Regions from separate parts of the Homo sapiens genome. Here regions 1 and 3 are each reported to be linked to region 2. Evidence: microRNA targets listed by miRTarBase, many of them from high-throughput screens and not tested one by one. Region 2 holds a microRNA gene; each other region holds the end of a gene's coding sequence.
The links. The annotated mature microRNA hsa-miR-4455 reads AGGGUGUGUGUGUUUUU and lies in region 2 at 1,456-1,472, shown strand. An mRNA with a match to its seed (bases 2 to 7 or 8) in the 3' UTR can be bound and repressed. Matches are read on the target gene's strand: a 7mer-m8 pairs with bases 2 to 8, a 7mer-A1 pairs with bases 2 to 7 and ends in A, and an 8mer does both.

Region 1: miRTarBase lists ZMIZ1 as a target of hsa-miR-4455. Seed matches in the 3' UTR shown: 7mer-m8 at 2,599-2,605, 7mer-A1 at 2,012-2,018 and 7mer-A1 at 1,765-1,771.
Region 3: the mRNA of COA7 is a reported target of hsa-miR-4455. The part of its 3' UTR that is shown has no 7-base or 8-base seed match.

Annotation. Positions count from the first base shown.
Region 1 is chr10:79,312,231-79,315,578 of GRCh38, reverse strand. ZMIZ1 (zinc finger MIZ-type containing 1) reads right to left here. Exons shown (of 25, transcript NM_020338.4): 25 at 1-2,937. The coding sequence ends at 2,830. Among named protein-coding and RNA genes, the nearest start is that of PPIF, 34 kb to the left of the region's middle. RefSeq lists enhancers at 2,042-2,541, 3,299-3,348.
Region 2 is chr4:184,936,545-184,939,892 of GRCh38, reverse strand. It overlaps MIR4455 (microRNA 4455), which reads left to right and starts at 1,453; the gene lies at 1,453-1,510.
Region 3 is chr1:52,685,083-52,688,082 of GRCh38, reverse strand. COA7 (cytochrome c oxidase assembly factor 7) reads left to right here. Exons shown (of 3, transcript NM_023077.3): 3 at 1-3,000. The coding sequence ends at 363. Among named protein-coding and RNA genes, the nearest start is that of COA7, 12 kb to the left of the region's middle. RefSeq lists a silencer at 1-120.

The sequences.
Region 1 (3,348 bases), not on the chromosome of region 2:
AGATGGGGGTGATTGCCTGTACTTGGCCCTTCCCGCCTGCCTGCTGGCTCCCTGTCCATCTTGCGGAGTGGCGGCAGAAACATGCCTGTGGGCCGGGTGGATGCTTGGCATGGAAAAGTGGCTTGCAGAGGCCTCGTTTTTGCTGAGGTTACTTATGGCTCCAAGTAGTCGTCCGAAAGGATCAGGGAAGGATCTCTCCAGAGTTCAGGACCATCTCTGTTTATGGGCGTTGTCTACCTGCACCTGTCACAACCTGGGGCTTGCTCCCGCCCCGGATGCCTCTGCACCTCCCTCACACCCTGGCCTGGCTCCCAGAGCACTCCGGAAGAGCTTGTCTCCAGACTGCAGGCTGTAGGCACCACGCACGGTTCAGAGCCAGCCGGAAGGGAAGCTCTGGGCCGAGCTTGCTGGTGGAGGCTTGCTGGAGAGGGGACCCAGGAAACCCGCCTCAGGTGCTGAGCCCAGAGATGGTTGCAGGAGGTGCCCGGGGCCTGGGCTGCAGGGAGCATCTCGACTCTCCGCACTGGAAAGCCGTGGATCCACCTGTGAGCAGAGTGTGGACACACCCTGATAAGAACCAGAATGAATCCCAGGCCTTTCTGGGGCAAAGTATCAACGCAAGAAGCAAGAACTCCTAAGGAAGGCATCTGTAAGTCTGTCTGGAGCTTAATTCCCAGATGGTCTGACACAGGGCGTGGCCACTTGCCAGGCCACAGACACTGGGCAAGGGTGGCCACATGCTACCTGGCGTTGGCTTGTCCCTGCCAGCTGACTGAGGGATGGCTCTAAATAGCGGGCTGCCCGGTCTTCCAACTCCCAGCACAGCCGCCCATTCTGTTCACCCCTTCAACTGTACAAATAGCCCTGGTTGCTTTTTTTGTTTTTGTTTAAAAAAAAAGAAGACTCGGTCTTTGTCATTGAGTCCAGGTATTTTAAAAACACCAGCAAAGGCTATAACCAGGTCATGAAAATGTTGAATATTATCAAAGACGATACTAAAATATTCACAAAGATATTTACAAAAGCGATTCTTAAAATAATTGATTTGCATACTGAACAACACGCTATTTGAAAAAACCTCGACAACGGGACAAAGGAAGAAAAGGGGCCGGGGCAATGGCAGCTTTCCTACAGAAAACCTTGTGCCGTCTGGGACAGTGACTGGAAGTCAACAGCTGGGGCCACCTTTCCGGTAAAACCCACAGAGGAGAGCTGGGGACCACCCACAGCGGACGGGAGAGCAGGAAAGGGCCCCAGGCAGCAGCCGGGAAGGGCGCAAAGAATTTACAGATGGGACCCCAGTGACGGGACAACCTGGCATCACCCTAGGCCATGTGGCTCACGGGGCACAGACCAGCCTGAAACAAAGTGAACACAGGACAGGCTCCCCAGGAGGCCCTGGAGAGTGGTAAGCCAGATGGAGCAAAGCGGTGGAGGGAAGGCCAGAGGCTGCTTTTGCTTGAGTGAGCAGGAGTTTGGGTGAGATTGTGATGGTGGAGGAGTGCAGGCAGGGTAGGCTGGCAGCCAAGGGCAGTGTCTGGGGCAGGCCCAGAAACACGCCCCCCTCCCCCCCATGCCTGCAGGTACATACTGGTGCACATGTCCATGGCCTGGGCTGCAGCCGGGGGCAGCTTGGAGCACAGGGACAGAGGGAGGGGCTGGACAGACACCATTGCCCTGGGCTCTGGTTTCTGCACCTCCCCGGCCTTTCCACGCACTGCCCTTGCCATCTGATTGGACAAAGAGAACTAGGACAGAGGGAAGTGGGTGTCCCACGGAAGTCTTGGAGAGGTGGCAGGAGAGGGACTAGGAGAAAAACAGAACAGACGGAGAGAAATGGTTTGCTTGCTGTCCAAGAGCAACGTTCCTTTTCTCCAGGTGACTTCATAGCTTTAAATTGTTGCTGTTTAAAAAGAGAGTGGCTTGGAGCAAAGTTAGAAGTTGCCGCTCCTGTTTGCTTCTGACAGGTTATATGCCCGCGCCCCCCAACCAAGGGCACAATCACTTTGGTTGGGTGTACACCTGCTCTCTCTGTTCCCCAAGCCTGGGCCCTGTCTGAGCTTGGAGGTGGAGCCTCAGGGACGTCCTGGCTCAGAAGATGTCCTGGCCCTCTTCCCCACCAGTCCCCAAGCAGGAATGGCAGACCCCCTCTCAAACACAGACTCTTGTCCTTTTTCTCTGCTTTCTGAGTGTGTTTATGGGGTATCTTGGCTTATAGGTCAGGGGTCAAACCGATGACCCCTGGCCCCCGAGAGACGTTGTCTTTCCCAGAGGTTTGTGCTTTTCTGTGGTGGGTGGTGGTGGGTGGGCTGGTCTCACTGCCACCAACTGCCAGTGCTCCTCCAAGGCTCGGGGCCCATGCTGGGGCCCGGGGGCCTTCTCAGGCTCCACAGTCACTGGAGGGAGGCTCTGGACCAGGAAGCAGGGAGGCAGGGTTACAGTCTAGAAGATGGAAGAACCTTGGGGACACTGGAAGGTCATCTGGAATCGGCACACGCGGAGGGACCGGGAAGCCGCATCAGCGTGTGCCCTCTTACCGGGCTGGTTCCTCTCGGGAGGGTGGTCTTCAGGCCTGCGCTGGGCATGGGCCCAAGCCAAGGGTGTGGAGGTGGGACGTGGGCTCCAGACCCACACAGCCTTCCTGGTGCACTGGTGCACCCTCCCTACCCCTCTGTTCTGAGAGGGCTGCAGCGGGGGAGGGCTCCCCGCCCCACAGCCCGTGGCTCTGGTGCGGGGCGGTCTGAGGGCACAGGCTCCCAGGTGGAAAAGTGTGTTGGGTAGGTGGGGTAGGATGCAGAGTGTGGAGGGATGGCCCCGACCGGGTGGCCCTCAGTTGTTCTCAAATAGAGACAGGAGGTCATCGTTACTATTGCTCGGCAGGTCGGGGGGGTCCAGATAAGACAGGAGCTCGTCAGGATTTGTGAGTTCGGGAAGGAGCTGGAAAAGAAGGAGTAATGAAGTTCAGATGAGGTGTGCCTGAGAGGCAGGCCCCGGGTGAGGAATGCAGGGGCGCCCTGGCCCGTCCCCCTCCACCTGCCTCTCAGGACCCTAGCCAAAAAAAGGGGTAGAGAACAGCCTTGGGCTTGGGCCTGCCAGGTATCCCCACACATACCCCGGCCACTGCACCGAGTGTGGGGCACCCCCATGCTCATTTCAAGCCTCAGGATTGGGACCCGCAGCCCACCAGCTGAGGCCTGAGCAGGGCTGACCCTTTTCAGGCATGGACTTCAGCCCTAACCTGGGAAGGCCCCATGGCAGGTCACTTGGGCCTCCCAGCTGAAATCACATGCTTCACGTGTAAGCACAAGGAGGTGGGCTGGTGGGAAGGCGGGAAGGCGAGTGGTTCCT
Region 2 (3,348 bases):
AAGCTCCGCCTCCTGGGTTCACGCCATTCTCTTGCCTCAGCCTCCCAAGTAGTTGGGCCACAGGCGCCTGCCACCACGCCCGGCTAATTTTTTGTATTTTTAGTAGAGACGGGGTTTCACCGAGTTAGCCAGGATGGTCTCGATCTCCTGACCTCGTGATCTGCCCACCTCGGCCTCCCAAAGTGCTGGGATTACAGGTGTGAGCCACCCCACCCAGCCAGAATTCTATACATAGTCAAAATATCAATTAAGGGCTGGGTGTGTTAGCTTACACCTGTAATCCTAGCACTTTGGGAGGCCAATGTGGGCGGATCACCTGACGTCAGGAGTTCGAGACCAGCCTGACCAACATGGTGAAACCCTGTCTCTACTAAAAATACAAACAAATTAGCCGGGCTTGGTGGCGGGCGCCTGTAGTACCAGCTACTTGGGAGGCTGAGGCACAAGAATCACTTGAACCTGGGCGGCGGAGGTTGTAGTAAGCCAAGATCACGCCATTGCACTCCAGCCTGGGCGACACGGCGAGACTCTATCTCAAAAAAAAAAAAAAAAAAAATCAATTGAGTATGAGGATTGAATAAAGACATCTTAGAAAGGCAATGTTCCAGATATTGTATTTCCTATGCACCTTTATTCCTTCATAGTAGGAAGTTGCTAAAAGATATGCTTCACCAAGATAAAGGAGTAAATCAGGAAAGAAGACGTACAGGAAACAGGAGATCCAACATGAGAGAAGTGAAGGGAATTCCCAGGAAGATGGAGAAGTCCCAGGTTGACAGTTTGGCCCCAGTTGTTGAGAACGGTCTAGACTAGGGGTCCCCAACTCCTGGGCTGTGGACTGGTACTGGTCGGTGGCCTGTTAGGAACCGGGCCACACAGCAGGAGATAGATGACAGGTGAGTGAGCATTACTGCCCGAGCTCAGCCTCCTGTCGAATCACTGGTGGCATTAGATTCTCACAGGGGCATGAACCCTACTCTGAACTGCACATGCGAGTGGTCTAGGTTGCATGCTCCTATGAGAATCTAATGCCTGATGATCTAGGGTGGACCAGTTTCATTCCAAAACCATCCCCCATTGTCTGTGGAAAAATTGTCTTCCATGAAACCGGTCCCTGGTGCCAAAAAGGTTGGGGACTGCCGATCTAGACTGAAGTATGTTGGAGAATCTGGGAGAGATTTTGTGAAGATTGGATTGATAAGATATGTGATGCTCTGACTGTCTTAAGAGGATGTTTGTATAATTAAGTGAGTTTGTGTTTGAATTAGTGATAAGCATCAATAATAATAATAAAATTTTAATCCAGGGAAGCAAAGAGTGGCTAGGATAGGAAAAGTCATTATAGTTTGATGCATGGCTTAGTTTAGTATTTTCATGGTTGTAATCATATAAATGCTCAACAAAGAGCTAACAAAAATTATGATATAACCAGATTAGAAAGATAAGCAGATGAGAAGGGTGTGTGTGTTTTTCCTGAGAATAAGAGAAGGAAGGACAGCCAAATTCTTCATTTGCAAAGGGATAAGCCAATAGATGAATGCATAAAGCTGAAAAATCAAGGAAAGCAATATAAGCATTTTATTTAGAGATGTAGAGGTTACTGACAATAGCATTAGCTAAGATAATTGAAAGTGGTGTTTCTGGAGAAGAGGCAAGGAGCAACTACTATTTGTGTTAATGAACATTGTAGAATTGTTTGGCTCTATAAAATTCATGCTTGTATTACTTTAATAAAAGTTAAAGTAAAAATATAAATAAACAGCAAAAAGCTTGCATAGCACGCCACTCTAAACTAATAAATGAAACTAAGTGATGAACATTTTATAGCATCTGATTTCAATCAGCATCATTTGAAGCGCTTTGAGTGCAGAGTCAGCTCAGCATCTATCCCGGAAGAAAAGCTCGGCCCTGGTGCTGACAGACACAGAGAGGAAATGGAAAGCAGCACCCCGCGGAGTGGCAGAGGGCATGGCTGGATAGGAGCATCTGTCTGCGTTCATCATTAGACGCCAGATGTAACCTGGAGTTTCAGCATTAAATGTTTATATGAAATGATGCCGAGGTGGAAATTTTGCCTTATAAAGTAGCTTATCTTGGGAACAGAGAGTACTATAAAAAGATGAATAAACGATTAAATCAAGGTCCAGACATGAGCTGATTTTTCTTAAAAGCAGTATCTTTACAACTTCAGAGTTTGAACTCTCTGATGTGGAACCAAGCCAAAAATAGCACAAAGAAAATATTGACCATGAGAGTGGTGACCTGGCAAGCTCAACACTGTCCACCTGTTAATCACTTGTCCCTGTTGATTTCAGCTTATGACTGCATACTTTCTAGCCTAATCCTACTGTTGGTATACTCAGGTGCAATAGAAGTTAAAGAGTGAATAAATCAACCTACTAAAAGAGATTCATGGGCACGGGGTGGGTGGAGAACAAACATATTACATTCCAAAATTCCTATGGCTCAAAGGATCAACTACTAAACAAAGCATGTACACCTGAGCCACTGTGGGAGCCAGCATGAAACACTTCCAAGGAATGAATTCAAGGAATGCAATTAATTCCCAAGCTCTTTTTCCCCAAAACTCTATTTTTGTTTCAAGCTAGCATTCCCATACTCTGTTCAGACTTTAATTCCATACTGTAATCTGTCCAGCTTTGGTAACCACCCAGCTGTAATTTGAACTGGCTGGTCAACAAACCAAACACCATCAAAGATTCTCATTTGTCTTGCTAAAGTCAAAAACACTGAAGATATTTAAATGTAAATATAATCTTTTACTGATCACACAATCTCAGGGAACTTTTCCCCCTTTGCATAGTGTCACAATTGGGGTTCAAATTGTGAAGACCAAATGTGTAACTTATACAAAAGTAATCACAATAGTTTGTTGCAATAGAAATGAGCTGTTCTGTGCATTGCTGACAAGCCACTTTTTAAAGTTTACTTTTAAATGTATGTATAGTAAAATTCACTCTTTTTGGTGCACAGTTCTTCAAGTTTTAACACATACATAGATTCAAGTAATTACCACCACAGAGAGGATACAGGACAGCTCTATCATCCTATACACCCTCGTGCTGCCCCACCTGGAATCCCTGGGAACCACTGATCCATCCTCTGTCCCTAGTCCGACCTTTTCCAGAGTGTCATATAAATGAAGTAATTTGGGATGTAGCCTCTTGTGCCTAGCTTCTTTCACTTAGCATAATATATTTGAGATTCACCCATATTATCGTATCATATTGATACAGCTCTGATGAATGGAGGAATACCAGGTTCTTCCTCTCGAGTTGAATTGGAAAAAACGACACGGACACACCTGGTGTGATTTTAAGGAGCAGA
Region 3 (3,000 bases), not on the chromosome of region 2:
CACAACGTTGGCCTCCTGGCACATGATGGACAGGTTAATGAGGATGGCCAGCCTGACTTGGGAAAGGCCAGGGACTACTACACAAGGGCCTGTGATGGTGGCTATACTTCCAGTTGCTTCAACCTCAGTGCCATGTTCCTGCAGGGTGCCCCAGGCTTTCCCAAGGACATGGACCTGGCATGTAAATACTCCATGAAAGCCTGTGACCTGGGTCATATCTGGGCCTGTGCCAATGCCAGTCGCATGTACAAGCTGGGGGATGGTGTTGATAAGGATGAGGCCAAGGCCGAGGTGCTAAAAAATCGAGCCCAGCAGCTACACAAAGAACAGCAGAAAGGTGTCCAACCCTTAACATTTGGGTAATGTGGTCCACCCTCCCTCCCAGGCAACAAACTGCTTGAGGCTGGCAGCTCCTGTTTCTGAAGACTGATGCAGCCCTTGAAGGTCAACCTGCTGGAGCAAAAAAACTTGGGACTTGAATTTGTAGCTCCATTTACATGGATCCATTGCCCCAGCTACTGGAGTATAGCCTACAATGTTTATTTCAGTCAATATTCCTTTATCTGGGTGTTCTGTACAATGTTTATTACAGTCAATATTCCTTCATCTGGATGTTCTGTGAAGATAGCCATGTTTATGGGGGTCTTAGTTTTCAAACTCTGGCAACTCTGTGAAAAATAGGAGCAAACTAGAGAGCCCTGGAGATTGGTAGTAGGGAAGGGAGGATAGCAGGAAGTTTGAAAAATTAGCAGCCCCGGGGCCTAAAGGAATCAGCTGTCATCATTTTCATCATTATTATTTTGGTTAGGATGGCTTGAAAATCAGAACGTATCTTGGTTTACGTAATTGAGGTCTTAAAGAACTAAGAACAGTTAAATAGTCACAACTACCACCCTCTGACTTACATAATCATTGGTGTGGGCTTCGTTTTGCCTTTAGAGTCACATCTTTCAGTAAATTCACAGAGATCAAGAGGGACGTGCAACATACAGCTTAAAGGCTGTTATGCTTCAGGGTTGCTGAAGAAGATGAAACATCAGCCTGCCATCGTCTAGAAGAGACATTGGCAGTTAAAAATTAGCACCTCCAGTGTAGTCGCCTGGCACTGCCCATCATGCTGAGGGAGCAGATTCTTCCCAAGGCAGCTTCAGCTAGGAGTTTGTAAGCAAGGACTTTGTGACACATTTGTCCCCTGGAACTGAGCCTTTTTAACTGTCCCTGTGAATGAACAATTTTGAGTGACCTACGGTTTGTGTTAATTAGTGTTCTTTCCAGATTCCAGGTACCGTAGAGAGTATGTTCTTTGTGGTGGTTGTGCCTTTTAAGAACATTTGTGGCCGGGCACGGTGGCTCACGCCTGTAACCCCAGCACTTTGGGTGGCCAAGGCGGGTGGATCACGAGATCAGGAGATCATGACCATCCTGGCTAACACGGGGAAACCCCATCTCTACTAAAAAATACAAAAAATTAGCCGGGCGTGGTGGCAGGCGCCTGTAGTCCCAGCTACTGGGGAGGCTGAGGCAGGAGAATTGCTTGAACCCGGGAGGCGGAGCTTGCAGTGAGCTGAGATTGCGCCACTGCCCTCCAGCCTGGGCGATAGAGTGAGACTCCGTCTCAAAAAAAAAAAAAAATTTGCTTTTTCTGTTGTCTCCCCAGCTTGTCACCAGGGGGCGAGCTTGCCATTTCCCTGCTGGTAACAATACCATTCTGTCACCATCTACTGTTTTAGGCTTCCGTTTTGCAGCCGTCCTGAAAGGAAGGCTTGCTGTGTAAATGAAGGCTTGTGAGCACAGCAGCCAGCCTCTCAAGTTGATAGAGGACAGGGACTTCCCCAAGTGCACAGAGGAGATTTCAAAAGACATCAAATTCACTTTTTAAAAATGTAAAGTAGCTTTTGGTGTGCTTAAACTAGGTCAGGCCAGGCGTGGTGGCTCATGCCTGTAATCCTAGCATTTTGGGAGGCCAAGGCAGGTGGATCACTTGAGGTCAGGAGTTCGAGATCAGCCTGGCCAACATGACGAAACCCCTTTCTCTACTAAAAATATAAAAATTAGCTGGGCGTGGTGATGCATACCTGTAATCCCAGCTACTTCGGAGGCTGAGGCAGGAGAATCACTTGAACCTGGGAGGCAGAGGTTGCAGTAAACTGAGACTGTGCCACTGCACTCCAGCCTGGGCAACACAGCAAGACTCTGTCTCAAAAACAAAAACAAAACTAGGCCAGGTGCAGTGGCTCACGCTTGCAATCCCAGCACTTTGGGAGGCCGAGGCAGGCGGATCACGAGGTCAGGATTTCGAGAACAGCCTGGCCAACATAGTGAAACCTCGTATCTACTAAAAATACAAAAATTATCTGGGTGTGGTGGTGGGCACCTGTTGTCCCAGCTATTCAGGAGGCTGAGGCAGGAGAATCGCTTGAACCCAGGAGGTGGAGGTTGCAGTGAGCCAAGACCATGCCATTGCACTCCAGCCAGGTAACAGAGTGAGACTCTGTCTCAAAAAAACACACACACACACACACACAAAACTGTAGGTCAAAAAACATGAAAATATGTTCAACATCACTAATTAGGGAAATGTAAATCAAAAACCACAATGAACTCTTAAAATTCAACAGTAAGAAAACAACCTGATTAAAAACAGGCCAAAACCCTTAACATATCTCAGCAAAGAAGATAGACAGGTGGCAAATAAGCATATGAAAAGATGTTCCATATAACATGTCATCAGGAAAATGCAAGTTAGAACAACAGACCACTATACAACTATTAGAATGGCCAAAATCCAAAGCACCGACAGCATGAAATGCTGGGAAAGTTGGAGCAACCAGAACTCTTATTCCTTGCTGGTGGGAACGCAAGATGGCACAGCCACTTTGGAAGACAGTTAAGCAGTTTCTTACAAAAACTAGGTAAGCTCTTACCATGTGATCCAGCAATCTTGCTCTTTAGTATTTACCTGAAGGAACTGAAAACATGTCCACACAAAAACCAGCACAT